Linked DNA regions of Homo sapiens: region 2 is linked to region 1. Evidence: fine-mapped expression QTL. A gene starts in region 1. The other region holds a variant in brackets. All regions are shown on one strand. Distances are between the middles of the regions. Region 1 holds the start of ATP6V1A (ATPase H+ transporting V1 subunit A). Region 2 has its middle 16 kb from the start of GRAMD1C.

The links. PIP is the estimated chance that this variant, and not a neighbour inherited with it, causes the effect.
Region 2: its variant is fine-mapped to the expression of ATP6V1A in whole blood (INTERVAL, PIP above 0.99).

The regions. Positions count from the first base shown.
Region 1 is chr3:113,742,073-113,754,506 of GRCh38, reverse strand. It overlaps ATP6V1A (ATPase H+ transporting V1 subunit A), which reads right to left and starts at 7,472. Exons shown (of 15, transcript NM_001690.4): 1 at 7,394-7,472. NAA50 (N-alpha-acetyltransferase 50, NatE catalytic subunit) reads left to right here and starts at 8,258. Exons shown (of 5, transcript NM_025146.4): 1 at 8,258-8,565. The coding sequence starts at 8,558. RefSeq lists enhancers at 7,515-7,884, 7,206-7,941, 7,942-8,677, 8,925-9,074, 8,678-9,414 and a silencer at 8,235-8,354.
Region 2 is chr3:113,816,372-113,828,805 of GRCh38, reverse strand. It overlaps a transcript of GRAMD1C not described here. Among named protein-coding and RNA genes, the nearest start is that of GRAMD1C, 16 kb to the left of the region's middle. The variant G/C (reference allele first, on the strand shown) is at 5,503.

The DNA of each region.
Region 1 (12,434 bases):
GCTGGAGTGCAGTGGCACATTCGCAGTTCACTGAAACCTTGAATGCCCCGGGATCAAGTGATCCTCCCACCTCAGCCTCTTGAGTAGCTGGGACTACAGGTGCATGCCATCGTGCCCAAATAATTTTTTTAATTTTTAGTTTTTACTGGTAGAGGGGGGTCTTGCCATGTTGCCCAGGATGGTCTCCAACACCGGGCTCAAGCGATCTACCTGCCTCAGCCTCCCAAAGTGCTGGGATTACAGGCGTGAGCCACCATGCCCAGCCTGTTTTTCCTAATTACAGAAACACTTCATGTCCACTGTAAAAATAAAAACATATAATGTAAAGTGTAAGGAAGAAAGTAAATCATCTTAGTGCCCATTGTTTCCCATAATCCATCATATACACAGACATGTACAAACATGTAGTTTTATATAAATATGTTACTATGGATATTCTGTCTCTTTCCTTTTCTGCTTATTTCCTCTTTCCAACGGTGACAACCAGGTAAAAATATACAAAACTCATGGTGTTTTTCAACTGGTTTTATAAAAAATGAGTTATCATTACAAATGTTTCTCTGTACTTTGTATTTTTTTTTCTTAAGATACATGATGGCCTGGGCAATAAGGTGAAACCCCGTCTCTACCAAATATACAAAAAATTAGCCAGGTGTGGTGGTGCACACCTGTAGCCCCAGCTACTCTGGAGGCTGAGGCGGGAGGATAGCTTAAACCTAAGAGGAGGAAGTTGCAGTGAGCCAAGACAGCACCAGTACACTCCAATCTGGGTAACAGAGCAAGATCCTGTCTCAGGAAAAAAAAAAAAAAAAAGACACATGATAGAAATCCTTTCAGAATGTACTTGGAAATCCTTTCTAATCACCAGTAGATTTAACTCCTACCATTTAATCACTTCACAACATTCCATAAAATGCCTCGGCCATAATTTACATAACAATACCCCTATTAACAGGCATTCCCTTTGTTTCCACGTTTTTTGCCACTACTAACATTGAAAATTGAAACACTGTTGCAGCTAACACTCCTGTAAACTCTTACTGGTGCTTTTATTTCTAAGGAAAAGATTACATGGAGTTAGACTGATGGGTGGAAAATACATGTATTCTCAGTATTAACTGATGTTGCTTGATTGTTTACTAGGAAAAACTCTAACACTTCACATCTCCGCTAGCATTTTATGAGATAATCCTTCTCCACATATCCCTGCTAGCAGTAGGTTTACCACTTAATTTTTGCTTGTCAGAGAAATAATATTTCATTGTTAGTATATTGATTACTAGTAAGGTTACACATCCTTTACTGTTTGTTGAATGTTTGGATTTCTCTTCTGTGAACTTCTGGTGACATGTTTTATCCATATTTTTACTGGGTGAACTTTTTCTTAATTGGAAAGAGTTCTTTCAATGGTTAACTCATCTGTTACATATATCTCAAGCCTTTTTTTCCGCCTGATTTTGTCTTTGGTCCTTTATTTTTGCCACTAAAGAATCCTTCGTTTCCATGCAGTCTCATGTGTCTATCCATACTTTTATGACTTTTAGGTTTCCTATCTTGGTTTAAAAAACTACATCTGGATTGTTTGTATAAAGGAAATTTAGGAGATTAATATCTTAAATATTTTATTGTTTACATTTAAGCCTCTAATCCATCTGAAATCAGTTTTTGCATCTGTTGCAATGTATTGGATCAATTATATTTTCTTCTAGATGAGCAAGTTGTATCAGTTAACATTTATGATATATATGTGCCCTTTTTCACCATTGGATTGAATTATCCCTTTGAAATGTGGTAAATTATCTTATATACTGAGATTTACTCTGCTTTTTAAAATTCTGCTGCACTTATATACTTAAAATTAAAAATATATTTACACACCTATAAAATTAAATAACTTACTCAGCTACCTGGATGAGACAAAACATTTTCACTTAAGATATCCAAGTAGTTAAGATGAAAGAATTATTTAGGTGCCTTAATTTTCCATATCAAATTAAGAAATATTTTGCAATGCCTACTGACATTATGAATTCAAATATACAGAAGGTATAGTAATAAATTTTAATTTTTTCTTTAATGCATCAATCTAGAGATAATTACTTATTTTGATGCATTTCCTTACAACTTTTTCCATATGTATATACTATTATTATTATACATATGCTCTTTTTTCAATTTTAAAGGTATTTTCCAATTCAATTAGTCTTCTCTATTGTACCTTTAAACATTAAAAAAATTAAACTAAGAACTAAAAACTTATAAAGTCTGGTTGCTTTTCATTGCTCAAGCACATCTGAAACTCTTCTATATCATATCATATACCACCCATTTTATTTTCAGTGAAATAAGCTTAATTATTTTTCAGAAAAGAAACAAAATGTGGCATGTTGCAGATAAAATTTTTTTAAAGGCTTACCAAGAGAACAGTTTCAACAGATAGCATTAAGATCCAAAACTGAAATTTTTGTTGTTAGTCATAATAATACCAAAAATAATAGTGATTTTTAAAACCTTAAGATATAAGAAAGTGTTTCCTTCTAAAATTTAAATCTGAAAATACTTATGATATACCATTAATTTTTAAAAACAGCTAATCACAGTTGTAAATTTATTAACTAGAGCTAACTACAAAGAAATATACAGAAAGAGGAGTTTCAAATGTAAATAAATCATTATTCTAAAGATCACTTCAGTAGTTTCAGGTAAAAATAAATATGTTACTACGAAGATACACAACCACTTCAGCTGTCTTTATATATACATACACACACATTGCGTACTTTATATACTACAAATATTTACTCTATATATAGTATATACATAATATGTATATACTAAATATAAATGAATACACTTATAAAAACCAAAGTCGCTATCATTTCACCATAGGGAAAAAAGAGAATAGCAAAACTAATATTCTCTTCAGAAATTATATGGAAAACATTTTTATTGCTCACATTTCATTTATTTAAAATAAAGTTACTTAGTATAAAGAATAAATTCATTCCTAAATCAATAAATCCATTTGTTATAATAGACAATCAACATTAAGGAAAAGTCAATAAACTTAATAAAATCTTTCCTTAAGACAAATGAGTAATTTTTTTTTTCAGGAATAAAGTGATTCATAAACTCATGATAGCTATACTTACTGTTTAATTTGCTGATATTTTCCATTGCAAAACTACTAACCCTTGTGAATCATGAATTTAAGAAGGGAAGAATTTTACTCTAGTTTATGTCTCCATTATGTTCTCTACATTTCTTTGTCTATTTCATATAAGGATAAAAATAAGATATAAAAACACTTAATTTTTTTAAAAAGACAAAATTTTTAAGCTTATAAGCATTAACTCAAAAGTCCCTGCTCTACAATCTGTACAATTTTAATATACTTCTATAATCCATTGCAGGAATAAAAACTTCAAAATTGAAGAACTGCCTCCTTAAATTTATTCCATACATTAATGATTACAAGCTTTGGAAAATCTTTATATAGAAAATATTAAGACACTGCAGTTGCCCAAATAAGGGACTTTATCTTGATATTTTTCAGATAAAATTAATAAATCTGTTTTAGAATCTTTGCTACAAGTACACTTTTCTTGTTCCCCCATTTTTTGGGTAATAGCTTCTTTTCAAATTCTACTCTCTTCTTCATGCCCCAAACCTGCTGCTCACAGGGACATCAGTCAATTCTGTGGGTTGTCTTAAGTCTTTAGAAATTCAGTATATAAAATCAAAGTAGTTATCAGTAAAATTAATTAAAAATTTTTTTTACAAAATATGTTCTAGGCATTTTACATTCATGATCTAACTTAATAGCACCATCTATAGATTTAAACGTGAGAAAACTTAACCTTACTTAAGTACACTGTCCAAAGTCACACAGTTATTAAGTGGTAGGGCCAGAACTTCAACTAGGTCTCTATGACTGGGAAATCAATTCATGTAAAGTCTGAGCTACACTGCTTTACCATTTTACACACCACTTAGTTTTTTTTGTTTTTGTTTTTGTTTTTTTTGAGATGGAGTCTCACTCTGTTGCCCAGGCTGGAGCGCAGTGGTGTGATCTTGGCTCACTGCAACCTCCACCTGTCGGGTTCAAGTGATTCTCCTGCCTCAGCCTCCTGAGTAGCTGGCACTACAGGCGCGTGCCGCCATGCCTGGCTAATTTTTTTAATTTTTTTAAGTAAAGACAGGGTTTCACCGTGTTAGCCAGGATGGTCTCGATCTCCTGACGTTGTGATCTGCCCGCCTTGGCCTCCCAAAGCACTGGGATTACAGACACCACTTAGTTTTTAAGATATTTTCACATAGATTACCTAGGGTTTATGTCATAGGAAGGTTCCTAAGTATCAAACCTGAACCCCTCCCCAGCATTACGTAAAAGGACATATAACTAAAGTGGCAGAGCTGAATGAAGATCCTCTGACTTTTAGTCTAGTGCTAGTCCACTTATAGATCACGCAGAGCCACTTTTTCATTTAGTACGATTCATTCCTCTTCCCTTCTCTCCCATATTTTGATGATAACCATACTTATTAGTAAACAAACATGCTGTGAAAATAAGTTGGTCTCAGCATTAATAAAGTCCATCTGAGGTTTTTATCTATTGTATTGACCATGAATTTGGAAGGTTATTACCAGTTTATATTTAAAAGCTAACATTTAGTGCACAACTTTAGGAAGAGCTATGATCTGCAAAAATTAAAGTGGTTTAATTTCTTTGTCTAATTGCCCAACATTCATTCAATAAATAATTTATTGAGTACCTATCAGGTACTTCAGTATTCTGGTGCTGAAGACACAATAGTATTATAGTTCACAGTCCTGAGAGCTTTATGATTTGCTGAGGAAGAGCCCAGGGAACAGGAATTAAATACAATGCTAGAAGTGCAAGTAGAAGAATAGAAAAGATGATGATGATGATTAGTAGTAGTCTATAGGACTGAGTGGCTACCTCTGCCCATGGGGAAGAAAGCATTCTTAGTGGTGGCAAAAATCTATAAAGGCACTGAAAACAAGAACTCAGGAAAAGAAAACCAGAAGTGCCAAGGGCCCTAAAATAAAACCAAACCCTTATGCTTTATTTAATAGTGGACTATAGCACAATTCCCTAATAAATGTTAAGATTTCTACATGTAACACTCATAAACTGATAAGGCTAGTCTCAGAAATGTTTTCCAGGCTTCCAATCGTGTGTGTGTGTGTGTGTGTGTGTGTGTGTGTGTGTGTGTGTGATCTGTGTATAATGTCAAAGCTTTTTTTCACATTTAACCTTACTAGCAATGTAATCACCAATTCCCACTACTAATCTACATTTCATCAGTGGTCTAAGTTATTGCTTTCACGAGTTCCCTAAAACTGGGGGAATTGTGAAGTAAAACTGCAGACTCATCCAACCACTTTCATACTGACATTTTCCCCTCTAGTAGTCAATGCTTCTAGCTGGTTTTCTCTTTCACATTTTGGTCTCAGCCAGACAGGACTAGTTAGGACTTCCAGACCACATAAGGAATTCTCCTTACGTGGTGCAATGTCACCTGGTCACTGAAGTAACACTTCCTTTTTTTCTTCCCCTCTCCTCTAGAGATCAAGGAACCTTATTATGGAGAAAATTAATGGATAAAACTACATATATATATCTACAGCAGGCATGATGACATAAATATATCAATACATTAGTCTATTGTCCAGTATGGGTCGTAAGTACGAAATGCTAAAATGGTAAATCCACAAGAGATAGTAGTAATCTTCATTACTTGGGGAAAGCAACATCTCCGAGGTTATGTTTTCTACTAAGGAGCATCAATAAGCTAGGTTATGTATTTTGCACTTACTATAAAAATACTTTGTTAAACTGCTGCTATTGTAGAATTTTAACTTTTTATTCTCCTTAACAAAATAAGACCGTTTATTGTATAGAATTTGGAAGACACAGAAAAACAAAAATAAATCAGTCACATCCACCAAAGATGATTCCATCTTCCTCATTTTCCAGCAGTCTTCTTTAATTACCTTAGTTAGAAAACTACAAGATTTAACTGAGCATATAATTTTTCATATTAAGAAAGGTGTAATTTAAATTTTAAAAATCAAATTTGTAATATTCGTAAGACCTTCAATTGAAAAGCAGCATGGAATTTTCTGAGTTTGCAGTATAAATAAAAGAGTTTAACCACAAACTGAAAAACATTCTTCCCTAAAGCACATTGTTTGGGATCAAAACATTGGTAATAATACATTATGGACGGAATGGGAGTACTTGGGTTGGACAACACCTGTATTTTCAATTGGACAACAATTTCTGTATTTTCACAAAATACTATTCATCAAAATCTGAAGAGGGCACCGGGAGTTTTACAAATGGGGAAAGCTAAAGAGGGATACAAATGCTACTTAACCTAAATTTACCACAAAGCCGATCAAGGAATAGATTGGGAGTGCCAATTCAGTAGTATTTTAGGGGAAAATGACAAAAAGGGAAGGATTGACGGCAGAAAACATGTGCAGACAGCAACATCTCGACTTGATTCTACCTTTAAGCATATGGCCAAATCAATTTGGTTTAACTATTTCCAACCCAATCAGTTTCTTATTTCGGTTTCAGGGAACCCTACTCACTCTTCCCTAAACCAGCCTGGGCCTCCTGCACACCACAACACCACAATACCATCTTTCAACGCCTCCTCATTCAATCGAGACTGTCGCATTACTAACACCTCCTGTTTTGAAGACAGTATTCCTTCAACTGTCCTCTCTGCAGAGAAGAAAAAGTAAAAGCCCTTCTTTTACTTTTCTAGTCCCATCCGAAGCACGTGAACATCTACGGAACCTTCCCTGCAGGTATGTCAGATAAAATCCTTAGAATCACTGAGAAAGCACATTCGGAGGGAAGCTTCACAGTGACTCTGCAGTGAGGGCCGTATCAGTGACAGTCCCTCCCAAGCCTGTCTCACCGGAGACGCCTCTGCCTCCAGGGTTTTTGCTACCTCCCCGCTCCTCAGCCCTGAGCTGAGGGTAAGGACAGTGAGGACCTTTGCCAAAGAATGGGCTTTAAGGAATGGGACCTAATGTCTACTGCAGACCCTGTGAAATGGCTGAAACAATCTGCTACCCGAAGCCCCAAAGGCTCTGAGTAGGGAACCATAATGGCCGCACTCACTTCCAACCCTGGGAAAGGTGGACATCTGAATCCCCAAGTAGCGGGAACGACCACACTTGGGGGAGCGGGGGTTAAGGAGAAATGAGCTCCTTGCCGGTGCAGGGTGACAGCGGGGAGGAAGCCTCAGGCAGAAAAGTCGCCGTTCACACTCTCCCTTCTCTCCTTCCTCTGCCTCCTTCCACCCCCTCTATCCCCACCACTCGCCAGTTACCGGTCGCCGCTCACCTGCTGGGGCGCGAGGTGCAGAGACTGTACCGACCGAGGACCCAGAGGCTGTCACCACGGAGGGGAAGTCCTCAGCTGCACAGGTTGGGGGGGGGGGGGGGGGCGGGCCCAACCAGTCACATGACGTCGAGCTCCGCCCTGCCTCCTCCATCCCAGCGCTCTACATCTCGGGGGGCCTGAATTTTTACGGATCCCTTGAATATTAATTTTCTTGGATTAAAGAAATAAAAGATAAATTTTCACAAAGAGTATGTTATAAAGTACAATGTGGAAAATGTGGACAGCAAGAGTTAAAGCGCATTGCTAAGGAAGTGACGTTCACGCCACAATCGAGGGACAGGAAATGGCGGTGGCGTTCCGTCCCTCTGGAGTCCGCCGGTAAAATTCCAGGCTCTGAGGTTTGGGCCAATCACGTGATCTTAAAACTTGAGGCGTGCTGGAGGGTAGCCAATCTATCTGGCCGATTGTTAACTACGTTTGTTTTAAAACACCTAACTTAAACTTGAGCTTTCCACAGATTTCTTTACATTTAGAAGAACTAACTTTATAAAACCCTACTAGGAGGCAACAGCGTTTGAAGGTCACTCTGGAGACCACAAACTGGGAAGAACGGGGCTGAGAAAAACTATCTTGCGGATATGGGACAAGAGAGGGAGGGGTGGAAAAATCTGGATTTTACCGCCAGGGCCTACCGAGCCAGCCCCACAAGCAGTGTCGTAAGCGGGTGGGAGGGAGGAGCATGACCCCAGAAGGCCCAGTCCAGGAGAAAGATGGAGGTTCCGGAGTGGAGGGGGCAGGGTGCGCGGAGGCGAGCAGTGCGGCTGCGCGTGAGGCGGCGGCGCGCCGGCGCGCGAGGGGCGGGGTGAAAGGTCACAGCGCGGCAGCGGGTCTGGCTGGCGGCAGCGGCGGGAGGGAGCCGAGAGACCCGAGTGCACGTGTGGAGAAGCGGCGGCACAAGCGCGGCGGCGGGAGACACTCCCGCCCCCACCAGACTCAAGCCCTCACTCGACTCTCGCGGCCTTCGTTGCTCGCACAGCTCCCTGCCCAGGCTAGGAGGCCGGCTTGCGGGGTTGAGTGGCCCGAGCTAAGGGTGCGGAGACCTAAGGGCGGCGACTACGACGGCGTTGATATCGGTGGTAACGACGGCCTCAGCAGGCGGGGAAGATGAAAGGGTGAGGAAGGGCAGCCGGGCAGGGCCCGGCCGGTGGGGTAGAAGGGTCCGGGCCCATGTAGAGGGGGAGAGCCGCAAAGGCGAGGAGAGATTCAGGGCGAAGACGGGCGGAGGGAGATTTCTCTGCTTCTCAGTTCCCTCGGCTCCCGGAGGGGGCGGAGGCGAGGCTCGGGCTGTTGGCGGGCTGAAGGGCCAGCGGAGGCAAGACCCGGGGGGCTTCAGGGTTTCGGTTCGGAGACGAGTGTGGGTTGTTGAGTGGGGAGAAGCGACCGAGTGGGGCAACATGGAAAGGCTATTGTGAAGCGCCCGGGGCCTCCTTCCCGGGAGCGGACCGCTGAGCCACGCCGGCCCGCAGCTCCAGGTGGAGTGGTTTGGTTGTCTTCCACCTCCAGACTCAACTCTGGAACTGCGGTGTTTGACACCTTTCAGTTTAATTCACGCTTGGGAGCTGTGCAGAACCTTCTGGAGGAAGAAGAAATTGGAATAAAGAGCACGGGGATGAGTATTAAGAGCTAGTGACTCAACTAGATTTGGGTTGGGTCACAGCGAGTGGAGGAGGGGGAGAGAGCGCGATCACTGTAGACTTGGGGTGCCAACATATTTAAGGAAGTATAGGGTGGATCAGTAGGTGGAGCTGTTGCTTCAGTAGTTCACTATTGCCCCTGAGTGCTGAGGCGGTCCTGGGTAGTTCTACCACGCTGCTCCTTTCAGGTGATTGGCAAAGTTAATGTTCGGTCTTTCACCGTTTGCCTCTTACGTAAAATTAGGAATTATTTTGGATCGACTGGTTAAGTTTTTATGAAATGTCTCCTTACCATTAAGTTGTATAGTTTTAATGTATTAATTACGTAACATTTTTCCGAAGCATTGTCTCAAGCCGTTTTGGAGCTTGTCTTTACCCTCAAAGAGATGAAGCTCATAAACGTTAAAAAGCTCTCTGCGATGCCATAGTTTGTTGTTGTAAGTCGATTAAGAAGTCGTAACTATGTTTTAAGTTAACGAAGTCATTCCAACTATTCAATAGCACTTTTGAGGATGAAATAAAAGTCACTTTCAACGTAATCTCATACTGCCCCAAACAAGGACCTAAATATTACCTCTGTGTATCGGTATTTGAGGTTCCTGAAGAGATTCCAAGAAAGTTTAATTTGGTCTTAGGTCTGTAACATGTTTCCTTACTTTAATTTTCCTTTAAATACTGGATATTTATTCTAATGTTGAATTGTATGTTTTGTACTAATAATCTTTAAAGTTTAAGAACCATGAACTATTCACAGTACCTGCATTGTTTCACATCAAGTTGTAAAGAGTTCCAGTTAGGGAAATATAATTGACGGGTATAGGAAGTATTTGCTCCACTTGAATCATGATCTTGGAAGTTTGGCTATTTCAGATACAATCCAACATATTTGGAGAATGTTGTTTTTCTGCTATACTGCACTCCTTTTGTTTTGTTCTTTTCATTTTTTTTTTTTTAATGAGGCAGGGTCTGGCTCTGTTGCCCAGGCTGGAGTGCAGTGGCGCTATCTCGGCCCACTGCAACCTTTGCCTCCCCAGCTCAAGCAATCCTCCCGCCTCAGCCTTCCGAGTCGGTGGGACCTCAGGCGCGCACCACCACGCCTTGCTAATTTTTTGTATATTTTGTAGAGACGGGGGTCTGACTATGTTGGCCAGGCTGGTCTCAAACTCCTGAGCTCAAGCGATCCACCCACCTCTGCCTCCCAAAGTGCTGGGATTACAGGTGTGAGCCACTGAACGCGGCATATACTGCACTTCTTGAACATGGTTGCTGACTCTTACTCATTTTTGTACTCATTGTCAGGCACTCAGTACTTGTTTGTCATGTTCTGTTAAGTAAGAAAAATGAGGCTGAAGAGTTCCCAGTGTTGAAATTGCCATGGATTTACGAAGGGGTTGCCAGGAAATTATTCTGTATGTTTAGATCCAAAATCTTCAATCTAGTTCAGTCTCCATAGGCTGTGATGTTCTTTCTGATACATAACTTGGCGATAGAAATGAAGCTGAACAGTCATATTATTCACAATCTACCTTGAATTAATATATTCATGGAGCAATTATCTCTGTTTAAAATGGGTATTTACATGTAACCTGATGAAGGCAGATCCCTAGAAATAACTGGCCGAATTTAGAGGAAACTTACAACTATTGAATCTGTACCTTTATGCCAGTAACTATGCCAGTGAAGTTCCTATTACTTCTTATGATTGGGAGCTTAGAATTGTGTTCTTTACTGTAAACCTTTAAGATGATTTCACAGGAATAATCCCTTTAACTTAACAAATGAACTAACTCCCAGATGAGATGAAACTTTTTAATTTTTTTTGCTTCTAAGTCTGTATTTAAGACACTCAACAAATGAGTTGTGTGAATCTTACTTGTGCTTGTTCGGATACTGAACCTACAACAGTATAGGTTTAAAATAAGTTAAGCGCCTTGAGTTCCAAAACTTGTACCACAGTGCACAGTGTGGTCGATTTTAAAGTCCTGACTCTTAATTTGGAATGGCCTGTAAAAACGAAACAGTGGTCCTGGTTATGTGGCTTTTGTATGAAATTTTATTTGCTAAGTATTCTATTGTATATTGAGGTAAGTAAACAGTAAATTGAAATATCTAAAATTGGAAACTGCGGAAGTCCCAACACGAAGCCAGTCAAATATTTAAAATTGTACACTGTTGCCTATGTTGCCTATCATATTGAAACTTAAAACTTAGCTGGTTTTTCTTCATATTTTTACCATGAGTATTTTTATTAGTAGTAGCAGTAGGACTTTCCATTGTATTGGCATGTCTTTCCTCCATAGAAGATAAATTTCCGGTTATTAACTACTGAATGTAATTTATATGCACATGTAGAAGTTTGAGATATACTAGGAAATGTTGCTTACTTTTGAGGTTGGCTGTTTTTATGAACCAGGGACATTGTAGTTTGAATTTGTGGGTGATATTTTTATCTGTTCTTCTCTAGGGAAGGCGATTTCAAGCAAGAAGGTATGCCACAGATAACCATGACTGAGGTGGCAATGTAATTAGGCAGTGTAATGGAAAGTATAATAAAACCAAATCATTTAGCCTTCAATTGTAGTAAAGAGGTGCAAATTAGTTCTAATAAAAAATGTCTTTAACAAAATGTGAATACGTGACTAAGATGGGAAAGTAGGTAGCAGTAATATAAATATGGAACAATGTTGACTACTAATTGGAATAGTAAAGGGAGCCATTTTACCAAATAAAATTAAAATGTAAGATTCTGCAGTCAGAAACAAAACTTTAAAAACTCCGAACAGTGGTTACCTCTGACAGCATATGGACTGGGAAGGGGCAAAAGGAATGCTTTTTGCATCTCAGCATAGTGAGACCTTGTCTCTACAAACAATAAAGCAGCCAGGAGAATCACCTGAACCTGGCAGGTGGAGGTTGTAGTGAGCTGAGATCGTGCCACTGCATTCCTGCCTGGGCGACAGAGTGAGACTCTGTCTCAAAAAAAAAAAAAAAAAAGCCAGGCATGCTGGTGCAAGTCTGTAGTTCCAGCTACTTGGGAGGCTGAGGCAGGAGGATCACTTGAGCCCAGGAGTTCAAGGCTGCAGAGAGCCATGATCTTGTCACTATATTTCAGCCTGGGCAACAGAGCGAAAACTGGTCTTAAAAAACAAAACAAAACAAAACTTTTTTTAAAGGTTTATTGCTGTTTTGTTTTTCAGCAAAACCAAAAGCTAGTCAGGCTGACGTAGCATTTGACACCTTTTATAAACCTACAGTTTATACTTCTTCCTTCTGTGAAACAATTTGTGGTTTGTTGATTGAGATAGTGAATTTTAACAAATACTTTGTAATGTGCCCTTGCTGTGTTG
Region 2 (12,434 bases), 74 kb before region 1:
GTTGGGGCAGAGGACAAGGCACTAAGAAACCAGGAATTGAAAGTATAACCTTAGTGGCTATTGAAATCACCAAGTGCAGAAAGAGTAGGGTAGAAGAAAGCGACATGAGCAAGGAGCAAAAATCTTCAATGAAAAAGGGAACATGGATTGTGAGTTTATAGATGACTCCAATAAGAAAAGGCAACTGGTGGCATAGTGTTCTGACATGAAATTCAAAGATAGAGTGTTAGGGAAGAGTGAAGGAAAAGAGTCTGGAAGTAATAGGAAAAAAGAAGACAATCACTTTTTCTTGGGCCCATTGGTGCTCCAGCTACTATAGTTGCATGACAAATCACCCAAAACCTTAGTGGCTGAAAACAATAATCATTCATTATTTCATGGTTTCTGTGGGTCAGGAACCTGGAGCAGCTCAGCTCCTCAGTTCTAGCTCATGGGCTTTCAGAGGTTGCCCTTAATCAAGTGGATATCCAGTCATCAGAAGACCTGATAGTGGCTGGAGGATCCACTTCTATGGTGTCTCACTTACATGGCCGGGCACCTGGTACTGGCTATTGGTTTGGGACCTCAATTCCTCTCCATATGGACATCTTCACAGAGCTGCTTCAGTCCTCATTGCATGGCAGTGCCTTTCCTCAGAGCAGGTAATCCAGGATACCAAGGTGAGGACTACAGTGCCGTTTATGACCTAACCTTGGAAGTTATAGACTATCATTTACACCGCATTCTATTGGGGTCAGTCAGCTCTGATTCACTGAGGGAGGTGACTCCACAGGGCATGAATGATAGAGGCCAGGATCAATGGAGGCCTTATTGATTGGAGGCCAATGGAGGCCAGGATCAAAGAAGGCCAGATCAATGGGAAGTTACAAGTGATATGATGGTGTGGGAGAGGAAACAGACACCACTTGAGAGGGCTTCAGGGAAAGCCGTTTCCTCTCAAGTTTCAGGGGAAAACCAAGTATCAGTGCAAGCTTGTCCAACCCGTGGCCCACAGGCCACATGCGTCCTAGGACAGCTTTGAATGCAGCCCAACACAAATTCGTAAACTTTCTTAAAATATTATGAGAGTTTTTTGCCATCAGCTGTCATTAGTATTAGTGTATTTTATTTTATTTTATTTTAAGATGGAGTCTCGCTCTGTCACCCAGGCTGGAGTGCAGTGGTGCGATCTTGGCTCACTGCAACCTCTGCCTCCCGGGTTCAAGCAATTCTCCTGCCTCAGCCTCCTGAGTAGCTGGGACTACAGGTGCATGCCACCACGCCCGGCTAATTTTTTGTATTTTAGTAGAGGCGGGGTTTCACCGTGTTGCCCAGGCTGGTCTCAAACTCCTGAGCTCAGGCAATCCGCCTGCCTCGGCCTCCCAAAGTGCTGGGATTACAGGCATGAGCCACTGTGCCCGGCCTAGTGTTAGTGTATTTTATATGTGGTCTGAGACAATCCTTCTTCCAATGCAGCCCAGTGAAGCCAAAAGATTGGACACCCTTGAGTTAGAACAAGATGAAGAAAGATTTTTAGAGAATTTTCAGAGAAAACTCAAAGAACTTAGGTTATAGAAGATTTTGTTGGCTGGGTGCGGTGGCTCACGCCTGTAATCCCAGCACTTTGGGGGGCCGAGGCAGGCAGATTGCCTGAGCTCAGGAGTTCACAACCAGCCTGGGCGACATGGTGTTGAAACCCCTCCTCTACTAAAATACAAAAAATTAGCCGGGCGTGGTGGCATGCACCTGTAGTCCCAGCTATTCGGGAGGCTGAGGCAGGAGAATGGCATGAACCCAGGAGGCCGAGCTTGCAGTGAGCCGAGATAGTGCCACTGCACTCCGGCCTGGGTGAAAGAGCAAGACTCCATCTCAAAAAAAAAAAAAAGATTTTGTTCATGTCTGATCCTGAATTCCACAACGCACTAGGGAGGGAGTTTTGGAGTTAAGGGCAGGGCTGGTGGGGAAGAAATGAGTGCTGAGGAAATAGATAGGGTGCTCAGAAGCATGCAGCAGTCCTAGGGTCACCTCTTTATTTTATCCCAAGGAGGCCCAGAGGTGGGCTACCGATGGTATGCCACTTTTTGCCCCTTCACTAAGTAGAGTGTTCCTGAAGTACAGCTCTGTAACTCACATTTCAATATTAGAAAGAGCTTGAAGGAGTTTACAAACTTCACTCTTTCAAATTTGTTAAATGTTCAGTATGACTAGTTTTAGTATAGATCCTTGGGAAATGTCATTGTTAATTTTTATCACTTTTTTCTAGTTTTGCTAACCCATAAATAGTGAGTTAACATATCTTTATAGACCTAATGAAGTGGGTCATGCCTGTAATCCTAGCTTTTGGGAGGCTCAGATGGAAGGATTGCTTGAGGCCAGGAGTTCAAGACCAGCCTGGGCATCACAGCAATCCATCCCTAGGAAAATTTTTAAAATGTGTGTGTGTGAGTGTGTGTGTGTGTGTGTGTGTGTGTGTGTGTGTGTGTGTGTACACATATGTATCTAACTTTGTTCCTTCCTGAAACCCACCCAAATTGCAATAAAAGGAGTTGTGGACAGACAGAACAGGAGAGGAAGCAAGAGCAAGAAACTTGTAAGCTGAAAGGCAGGGGAATGAATTGCAACTGAATTATAAAACTCACTCTCTCTGACCATATTTTTGCCAGACATCTAGTGTCTGGTCCAGGTGCTCAAAGTCTGGTGAGTCCTAGGCTTTCCAGGACTGCCTGTAGGGCTCCTGCCCACTGACTTTCCAAAATGACCTCTAGGACAACCAAGGACCAAGCTGATTTACACCTCAGAATGCCCAAAAAACATGGGAAGACAACACCAAAATACCTGTGACACTGATGATTAAATAAGGAAAGAAGTAGAATTGTAGCTAAAATAAGGACTCAGGTCAAAGCTGCTTGCTTTATTTTTATTTTTTTATTTTTGAGATGGGGTCTCACTCTGTCGCCCAGGCTGGGTTGCAGTGGCACCATCTTGACTCACTGCAGCTTCCACCTCCTGGGTTCAAGCAAGTCTCCTACCTCAGCCTCCCGAGTAGCTGGGATTTACAGGGGCGCGCCACCATGCCCGCATTTTTAGTAGAGATGGGTTTTCGCCATGTTGGCCAGGCTGATCTCAAACTCCTGACCTTAGGTGATCTGCCCATCTCAGCCTCCCAAAGTGCTGGGATTACAGGCATGAGCCACCACTCTGGCCAGGTCAAAGCTGTTTGAAAAGCAGTTATATCCCTAGGTCATCTCCTTGTCTCCATGCTGCTAGGCAATTTTAATTTTCAGATGTATATGTCTCAAAAAATATGCCACCCACCTTACTTAAGAAACAAGCTACTGGAGAAACAGCTCATTAAGAAACCAGTAAAGATAAAATGTGGGCGATGAAAAACAAGCACTAGGATAGAGATGGCATTCCCCAAGTGGTAGATCCCAGAATGACAGCTGCAGACTAGACATAGAAGGCAAGTAGTCCAGATTGGAGCCATGCAACTCAAGAGACAAGCTGATTGAGTGCTGTCATCACCAAGATCCCTATTGCCATTTATCTTCTTTTTAGCTGAAGACAGAATTTCCCTATGAGTCATGTTCAGAATCTTTTGTGTACTTTGCTTGTGAAGTTCCTATTCTCCCTCCATGCTCTGCTGCTTCACCCCACAGATTTCTGGTTTGACTTACTCCTGAGAACGAGAGGTAGCTATGATGGGTTTAGAAGCAGAAAACACAGAACAGTCCATTTTCTCTGACCATATTTTTGCCAAACATCCAGAATCTGGTCCAGGTGCTCAAAGTCTGCTTGAGTCCTAGGCTTTCCAGGATTCCTGAAGGCTCCTGCTCACTGACTTCCCTAAAAAAAGACTGTTTATTAACTCTCCGGGAACCTAACGCCAGATTATGATCAGTTTCTTTTCTCCTGAAAGGCTTTAAAAATCTGATAGTGACACCAGTCACCCTTTGCTTACACAGGAACATAGGTGACATATCTATAAATTAAAACAAGGCACTGATTAACACAAAAATCAGAGTAATGTTTATCTTTGGGGAAGGAAGAGAGTTGCAATTGGTGAGGGCTTCTATGTTACTCCAATATTCTATTTCTTTCTCTTTTTTTTTTGGAGATGAAGTCTTGCTCTGTCTCCCAGGCTGGAGTGCAATGGCGCATTCTTGGCTCACTGCAATCTTTGCCTCCGGGGTTTAAGCAATTCTCCTGCCTCAGCCTCCCAAGTAGCTGGGATTACAGGCATGCGCCACCATGCCTGGCTAATTTTTAAATTTTTGGTAGAGACAGGGTTTCACCATGTTGGCCATGCTGGTCTCAAACTCTTGACCTCAGGTGATCCACCCACCTTGGTCTCCCAAAGTGCTGGGATTACAGGCGTGAGCCACCATGCTCGGCCCCATATTCTATTTCTTAATCTGAGTGATGGGTACATACATATGTATGTTTTTTTTAATTGTCCATGTTAATACTATATATTTTTCTGTAAATAAACATTTACTTAAAAAATAAATATTTTTAAGTAAATAAACAATGAAAGTAATTATGTTTTTATTTAAATGTTGCTTATTGAGTATTGGATTGACAAACATTTTTGTTTTGATTTGAATAGTTTTTGTAGGATAAATATATACAGACACATATATATATATATATCTTAAAAGGAAAAAACCAATATAGAAAAACAGGCTTAGGCTGGGCACAGTGGCTCATGCCTGTAATCCCAACACTTTGAGAGGCCGAGGTGGGAGGATCATCTGAGGTCAGGAATTGGAGACCAGCCTGGCCAATGTGGCGAAACCCCGTCACTACAAAAAATACAAAAATTAGCTGGGCATGGTGGCGTGTAATCACAGCTACTCTGGAAGCTGAGGCAGGAGAATCACTTGAACTTGGGAGGCTGGAGGCAGAGGTTGCAGTGAGCCGAGATAGTGTCACTGCACCCCAGCCTTGGCAACAGAGCGAGACTGCATCTCAAACAAACAAACAAACAAACAAAGCGGGCTTAAGTTAAGTTGGGTAGAGAAAGGGATAAAATTTCCAGGGACTATAGAATGAGATCCACTGAACAGAACAAAGTTTAAGGCTGGTAAAATAAGGATATGTGCAAAATAGAAGCCAGTGTTAGAGTGAAAAGAGAAAAGTACAAACTGAGAGAGTTCCTAGGTCATTTGCTAAGGATATTAGATTTCCAGATTCACATTTCATTAAACTATAAATTATTTAAATACAACTTGTGTCAATTTCTGAAATGAGATGCCTTATATTATCTAATGTTGCACTATAACCTATGGTGTTAAATAAATTAACCTACCTAAATTTGACCTGCCATCTCTCTCATTCCTCTCCTTTCTGCCTCAATGATATCCACCAACCTCTCAATTTTAGCATTGCTATTTTAAGTAAAAATGCTTTGCCTTTACAAATAAATAAGCAAATGTTTTCCAATAAACTATTGATAGCGTAATTAAATTTAGAAATTAATGGCCGGGTGCGGTGGCTCGCGCCTGTAATCCCAGCACTTTG[G/C]GGGGCCAAGGCGGGCGGATCACGAGGTTAGGAGATCGAGACCAATCTGGCTAACACGGTGAAACCCCGTCTCTACTAAAAATACAAAAAATTAGCCTGGCGTGTTGGCGGGACCTGTAGTCCCAGCTACTCGGGAGGCTGAGGCAGGAGAATGACATGAACCCGGGAGGCAGAGCTTGCAGTGAGCCGAGATCGCATCACTGCACTCCAGCCTGGGCAACAGAGCAAGACTCCATCTCAAAAAAAAAGAAATTACCAAACATGTTGAGACAATGTTTTCCTTTACATAATACTCTTCCTGAAAATTAGGCATTTTTAGAAATGACATTCTCTATTTAATTGAACCTTATAGGCCACAGGAGTATTATTTAATAAAAATCTCTAGCGAGATTATTAGCAATTTAGCAGTTATAATTCATGGATAAGTGTTAATTCAGCCAACTAAACATAAAAATAGAAATTGTGTTCATTGTGATTAGAAACCCATGCTAAAAATATATAAAATATAAAATGTGTAGTATTTTTTGAGTAGCTACGTTTGTTGGAAGCAGAGGCAAGAATATAAATATTCATGAGTATCTTTCCTTGGATCACACAATGGTGCATTTAAACGTAAGTATAGGCCAGGTGCATTGGCTCACACCTGTAATCCCAGCACTTTGGGAGGCCAAGGCAGGAGGATTATTTGAGTCCAGGAGTTCAAGACCAGCCTGGGAAACCTGGCAAAACCCTGTCTCTACAAAAATACAAAAATTAGCTGGGTGTGGTGGTACGTGCCTGTGGTCCCAGCTACTCAGGAGGTTGAGGTGGGAAGATTGATCATTTGAGCCTGAAAGGTCAAGGCTGCAGTGAGCCATCATCGTGTCACTGCACCCCAGCCTGAGCAACAGAGTAAGGCCTTGTCCAAAAAAAAAAAAGGGGTATCTAGGCAAAATAAAAATGATACTAGGCTGGACATGGTGGCTCATGCCTGTAATCCCAACACTTTGGAAGGCCAAGGTAGGAGGATTGCTTGAGATTGACAGTTGAGACCAGCCTGGGCAAAATAGTGAGCTCTCATCTCTCCAAAAAAATCTTTTAATTAACTGGGTGTGGCAAGTCCCAGCTACTCAGGAGGCTGAAGTGGGAGAATTGCTTGAGCCTGAGGTCCGAGGCTACAGTAAGCCATGATCACACCACTGCACTCCAGCCTAGGTGACAGAGCCAGACTTTGTCTCAAAAAAAAAAAAAAAAAAAAAAGAAAAATTTGGTAGTGTGACTGAGAAGCCTGTAATCCTAGCACTTTGGGAGGCCGAGGAGGGAGGATTGATTGAGCTCAGGAGTTTGAAACCAGCCTGGGCAACATAGTTAGACCTTGTCTCTACAAAAAAATTAAAAATTAGCCTGGCATGGTCGCGTGTGCCTGTAGTCCCAGCTACTCAGGAGGTTAAGGCATGAGGATCACTAGATCCTGGGAAGTCAAGGCTGCAGTAAGCTATGACCATGCCATTGCACTCCAGCCTAAGCAAGACCCTATCTCAAAAATAAAATAAAATAAAAATAAGTACAACCTTTGGAAAACAGCATCTATATGTGAATCAAATTCTAGAATAGAAGAAAGACATTGGAGAAAAAGATGTGGGCCCTCCTGGGCACCATAACAAGACCCTGTCTTTGAAAAAAAAAATTTTTTTTTTAATTAGCAAGAGGTGGTGGTGCATGCCTGAAGTCCCAGCTACTCGGGAGACTGAAGTGGGAGGATTGCTTGGGCCCAGAGCAAGCCCATATCACAAAAGAGAGAGAGAGAGAGAAAGAAAGGAAGGAAGGGAGGAAGGAAGGAAGGAACGAAGGAAGGAGCTGACTTGAATTCTTAATTCTCTCAAAATGAAGGCTGACACATTGAAGAAGCTTTCTATAAAATGATGCAAAAATGTTCAAAATGGGTAGGTATCTTAATGAAAAAATAATACATTCTCTCTCTCTGTCTTTTTTTTTTTTTTTTGGAATACAATGTTTCTTTTTCCTTTTTTTCTTTCTTTTTTTTTTGAGATAGAGTCTCGCTCTGTTGCCCAGGCTGGAGTGCAGTGGCTTGATCTCGCTCACTGCAAGCTCCGCCTCCCGGGTTCACGCCATTCTCTTGCCTCAGCCTCCTGAGTAGCTGGGACTACAGGCGCCCGCCACCATGCCTGGCTAATTTTTTGTAGTTTTAATAGAGACAAGGTTTCACTGTGTTAGCCAGGATGGTGTCGATCTCCTGACCTTGTGATCCACCCGCCTCAGCCTCCCAAAGTGCTGGGATTGCAGGCGTGAGCCACCGTGCCTGGCTTTTTTTTTTCTTTCGAGATGGAGCCTCGTTCTGTCACCCAGGCTGGAGTGCAATGGCACAATCTTGGCTCACTGCAGCCTTCACCTCCCAAGTTCAAGCAAGTCTCCTGCCTCAGCCACCCAAGTAGATGAGACTACAGGTGCCCACCACCACACCCAGCTGATTTTTGTATTTTTTGTAGATATGGGGTTTCACCATGTTGGTCCGGTTGGTTTCCAACTCCTGATCTCAAGTGATCCACCTGTCTCAGCCTCCCAAAGTGTTGGGAGTACAGGCATGAGCCACTGCACCTGGCCCAAAATAATACATTCTTTTTTTTTTTTTTTTTCCTGGAGACAGGGTGTCACCCAAGCTGGAGTGCAGTGGCACCATCTTGGTTCACTGCAACCTCTGTCTCCCAGGTTCAAGCGATTCTCCTGCCTCAGCCTCCCGAATAGCTGGGATTACAGGCGTCTGCCACCATACCCGGCTAATTTTTGTATTTTTAGTAGAAATGGGGTTTTACCATGTTGGCCAGACTGGTCTCAAACTCCTGACCTCACATGACCCATCCGCCTCGACCTCCCAAAGTCCTGGGATTACAGGCGTGAGCCACAGCTCATGGCCTAATACATTCTTAATATATCACTTGAAGGCCTTCTTTTAGTGAGAACTTTCCGGAACAAGACAACCCTATGATTCTGTTCAATATAACTGTAAAAATCACAGTAGTTATTTCTGCTCAGTGAGAATTTTGTGGAAGAGGAAATGTCTTAATTTCAGTTCTCTAGGAACAGAGCCTGAGAATGAGATTCCTGTGAAAGTGGCTTATTGAGGACGTGCTGCTCAGGTGAAACTCATAAGGGAGTGAGGAAAGTAGCAGAGAGAAGGAGAAATAGAAGATGCTGATGTGGGTGCAACTGAAGTTTCTCCTCAGCCTGGTCCCACAGGGAGCGCTGGAGCATCACAGACTGGTGTCACCTTGAGGCAAGAGGACTGGTCTTTGATACCCTCATATTGATTTGGGTGCAGTTGGGTGTGTGGGTGGGGAAAACAGAGGGCTTCAGCTTCCAGGCCTAGCCAGATGTGGCAGCTGCTGTTAGTTGAGGGCAAGTTTCAGTACAAATATGCTGCTGCGAATTCTTATCAGCCAATACTCCATCAGAATATGTGAACTGGCCTGGCAAAGGGAATATGTGCATTTCACCAGCAGGGGCTATTACAAGTAATATTTCTTTTCTTTTTTTTGAGACAGAGCCTCGCTGGCCAGGCATGGTGACAGGCGCCTTTAGTCCCAGCTACTTGGGGGACTGAGGTGGGAGGATCACTTGAGCCTTGACCCAGGAGGTCAAGGCTGCAGTGAACCAAGATGGCACCACTGCACTCCAGCCTGGGTGACAAAGTGAGACCCTGCCTCAAAAAGAAAAAACAAAAAACAAGCAAAACCAAAAACTTATTTGGCAGTAGTTTAATCAAAGTTAATGCCAACAGGTTATGATTCAAATATCAAGAAATATGTTCTATTAATTTTGAAGTACTTACTTCCTGAAGAGGTTTGCATTTGATGATGAATTTCTATATAATACAAGGCTAACATTTACCTTGAATCCTTCTAAAGGTATTCAGTAGGCACTTGTATTTTTTTTAATTAATTTTTTTTTTTTTTTTTTGAGCCAGAGTCTCGCTCTGTCACCCAGGCTGGAGTGCAGTGGCACAATCTCGGCTCACTGCAAACTCTGCTTCCCAGGCTCAAGTGATCCTCCTGCCTCAACCTCCCAAGTAGCTAGAATTACAAGCATATGCCACCATGCATGGCTAATTTTTGTATTTTTAGTAGAGATGGGGTTTCACCATGTTGACCAGGCTGGTGTTGAACTCCTGACCTCGTGATCTCCCATCACAGCCTCCCAAAGTGCTGGGGATTATAGGCATGAGCCACCATGCTCGGCCTAAAACTTTTTTTTAATAGAGACAGGGTCTCACTATATTGCCCAGGCTGGTCTTGAACTCCTGGACTCAAGCAATCCTTCCACCCCTGCCTCCCAAAGTGTTAGGCTTACAGGCATGAGCCACTGTGCCTGGCCAGTAAGCACTTATTTTAACTGATACTAAAACAGTCAGTCCGATTTTTGACTTACAAGCAGGGTTGCTGAAATTTCTGTCATTTGAAAACCACCCTCATTTTTGCCATATCTTTTTACTTCTGTGATTTTATGTACTTAATAGTGTTCTTTAAAAATGAATCACTTTTAAAAATATTGAATAGTTTGGCTGCCTCCTTAAGCAAATCCTTGAAATCATGGATTTAAACTACTAAATGTTGCCTCTATACATTAAAATGCATACTATTCATCTGCCTCTTTCCTAAAACCATCTCACAGCACTGAGGTACACTGTGCAGGTTTCCCTTTGCGGAAGGCTTGCTGCCCAGCTGCCAGGAGTATGGTCAGCATACAGCCTCCAGCTATCAGCTCCTTCTTACTCTACAGTTGCTGAAAACCACCCAATCTGAGATGACATTCTCACAGGTATCTTGAATCTGGGAACCAAGAGAGGCACAGGTGTAAAGGCCAGGCCATTTTAGGCTGATGCATGTCAACTCTGGCAAACTCCAGAGGTTCCGCCTAGGAGTGGACAAGTCTGTCAGGCCTGCTTTGTACTTTACTTATTTTCTGCCCAACCCTGCTTTTGCTCCCTTCCTTTCCAAGTTGTTTATTGCTAGTTAACAACTTGCATCCCAAGCTCCACCTAGATGAGCTCTGGAAGTTCATCTGCTTCCAGAAAACTCAACCTGTAATTCCATGCTTGGGGAAATACTGTCATAAATCATATAAGGGTAAATGTCAAAAGGGCTTTATAAAGACTTTAAAATAAAACATGCAATTTAAAAATTAAGGCCATAAATATGATTTTATGTGCCAGGTGCAGTGGCTCGCGCCTGTAATCCCAGCACTTTGGGAGGCCAAGGCAGGCAGGTCACCTGAGGTCGGGAGCTCGAGACCAGCCTGACCAACATGGAGAAACCCCATCTCTACTAAAAAATACAAAATTAGCCAGACATGGTGGTACATGCCTGTAATCCCAGCTACTCGGGAGGCTGAGGCAGGAGAATTGCTTCAACCCAGGAGGCAGAGGTTGCGGTGAGCTGAGATCGCGCCATTGCACTCCAGCCTGGGCAACAAGAGCGAAACTCCATCTCAAAAAATAAAAATAAAAAATAATAATAAAGGGGCATGATCATGTCTCACTGTGGCCTTGACCTCCTGAGTTTAAGTGATCCTCCCACCTCAGCCTCCCAAGTAGCTGGGACTACAGCCATGTGCCACCATGCCCAGCTAATTTTTAATTTTTTTGTAGAGAGGAGGTCTTACTATGTACGTGGCTCAGGCTGATCTTGAACTTCTGGGATCAAGCAATCCACCTGCCTTGGCCTCCCATAGTGCTGGGATTACAGATGTGAGCCACTGTGCATAGCCAACAAATGCTATTTTTTAAAATGGAACTAAATTATACTCCTTTATAATTATGTTCACAAGCTAAGCCTGTGTATAACAACATCAAAATATGTTGCAGAATTTTGATTCCTTTTTAAAATCTCCTATGTATAGAGAAATGGACAGAAAAAAACCTGTTGGTTCATTCAGTAAAATACCTGAAACTACTGTAATAGAATCCTGTTTAAAATCCATAGGCATTACAGTTATTATTGCTAAAATTTCATGATTTAGGAAAACTTTGAGTGCCAGGCTATTCTGAGTCTAAATGAGTCAGAATACATGTGAATCAGCAGAGCACAGTTTAAGGTAAGTACCAAGGAACATCTTAAAGGATAAATGGTTCTGCAACATCTTATAATGCTGAGATTATGATAAAACTAGTCAACATTTGGGAGAATGCTTATTTAAATCTAAGTCTCTCATGTTACTTTTTTTTTTTTTTTTTGAGATGGAGTCTCGCTCTGTCACTCAGGCTGGAGTGCAGTGGCGCAATCTCGGTTCACTGCAACGTTTGCCTCCTGGGGTTCAAGCAATTCTCCTGCCTCCGCTTCCCGAGTAGCTGGGATTACAGGCACGTGCCACCACGCCCAGCTAATTTTTGTAGTTTTAGTAGAGACGGGGTTTCCCAATGTTAGCCAGGATGGTCTCGATCTCTTGACCCTGTGATCCGCCCATCTTGGCCTCCTAAAGTGCTGGGGTTACAGGCGTGAGCCACTGCGCCCGGCCTCATGTTATTTTTCATAGCTAAGCATGGAATAAAGATAGTTGTTTCCCAAAACTTGCCCCATGGTAAGAATCACTTGGAATGCTTGTTAAATCTATTCCCCTACCCTTTCCCTAGACCAGAGATTCCAATTCAGGTTGGTCTGGGGCAGGGCCTGGGAATCCGTATTAACACAATTCCATGTTTCTTACATTCAGACAAGTTTGGGAAACATCTAATTAAGATGTATAATTATTTAAAACATTAAACCTGTTTCTAACAGCCATCCATTGCTGCTTTAGGGGCTGTGATATGTATTCACGGACACCTGAGTACGTATTTGTATGCAACTGGCTACAGCACTGTGAAGAGACAACAGTTTATGCATTCTATGACTGTGTTCCAAGGACAGACTATTCCCCAAATCCAGGTCAGCTATCCAACAAAG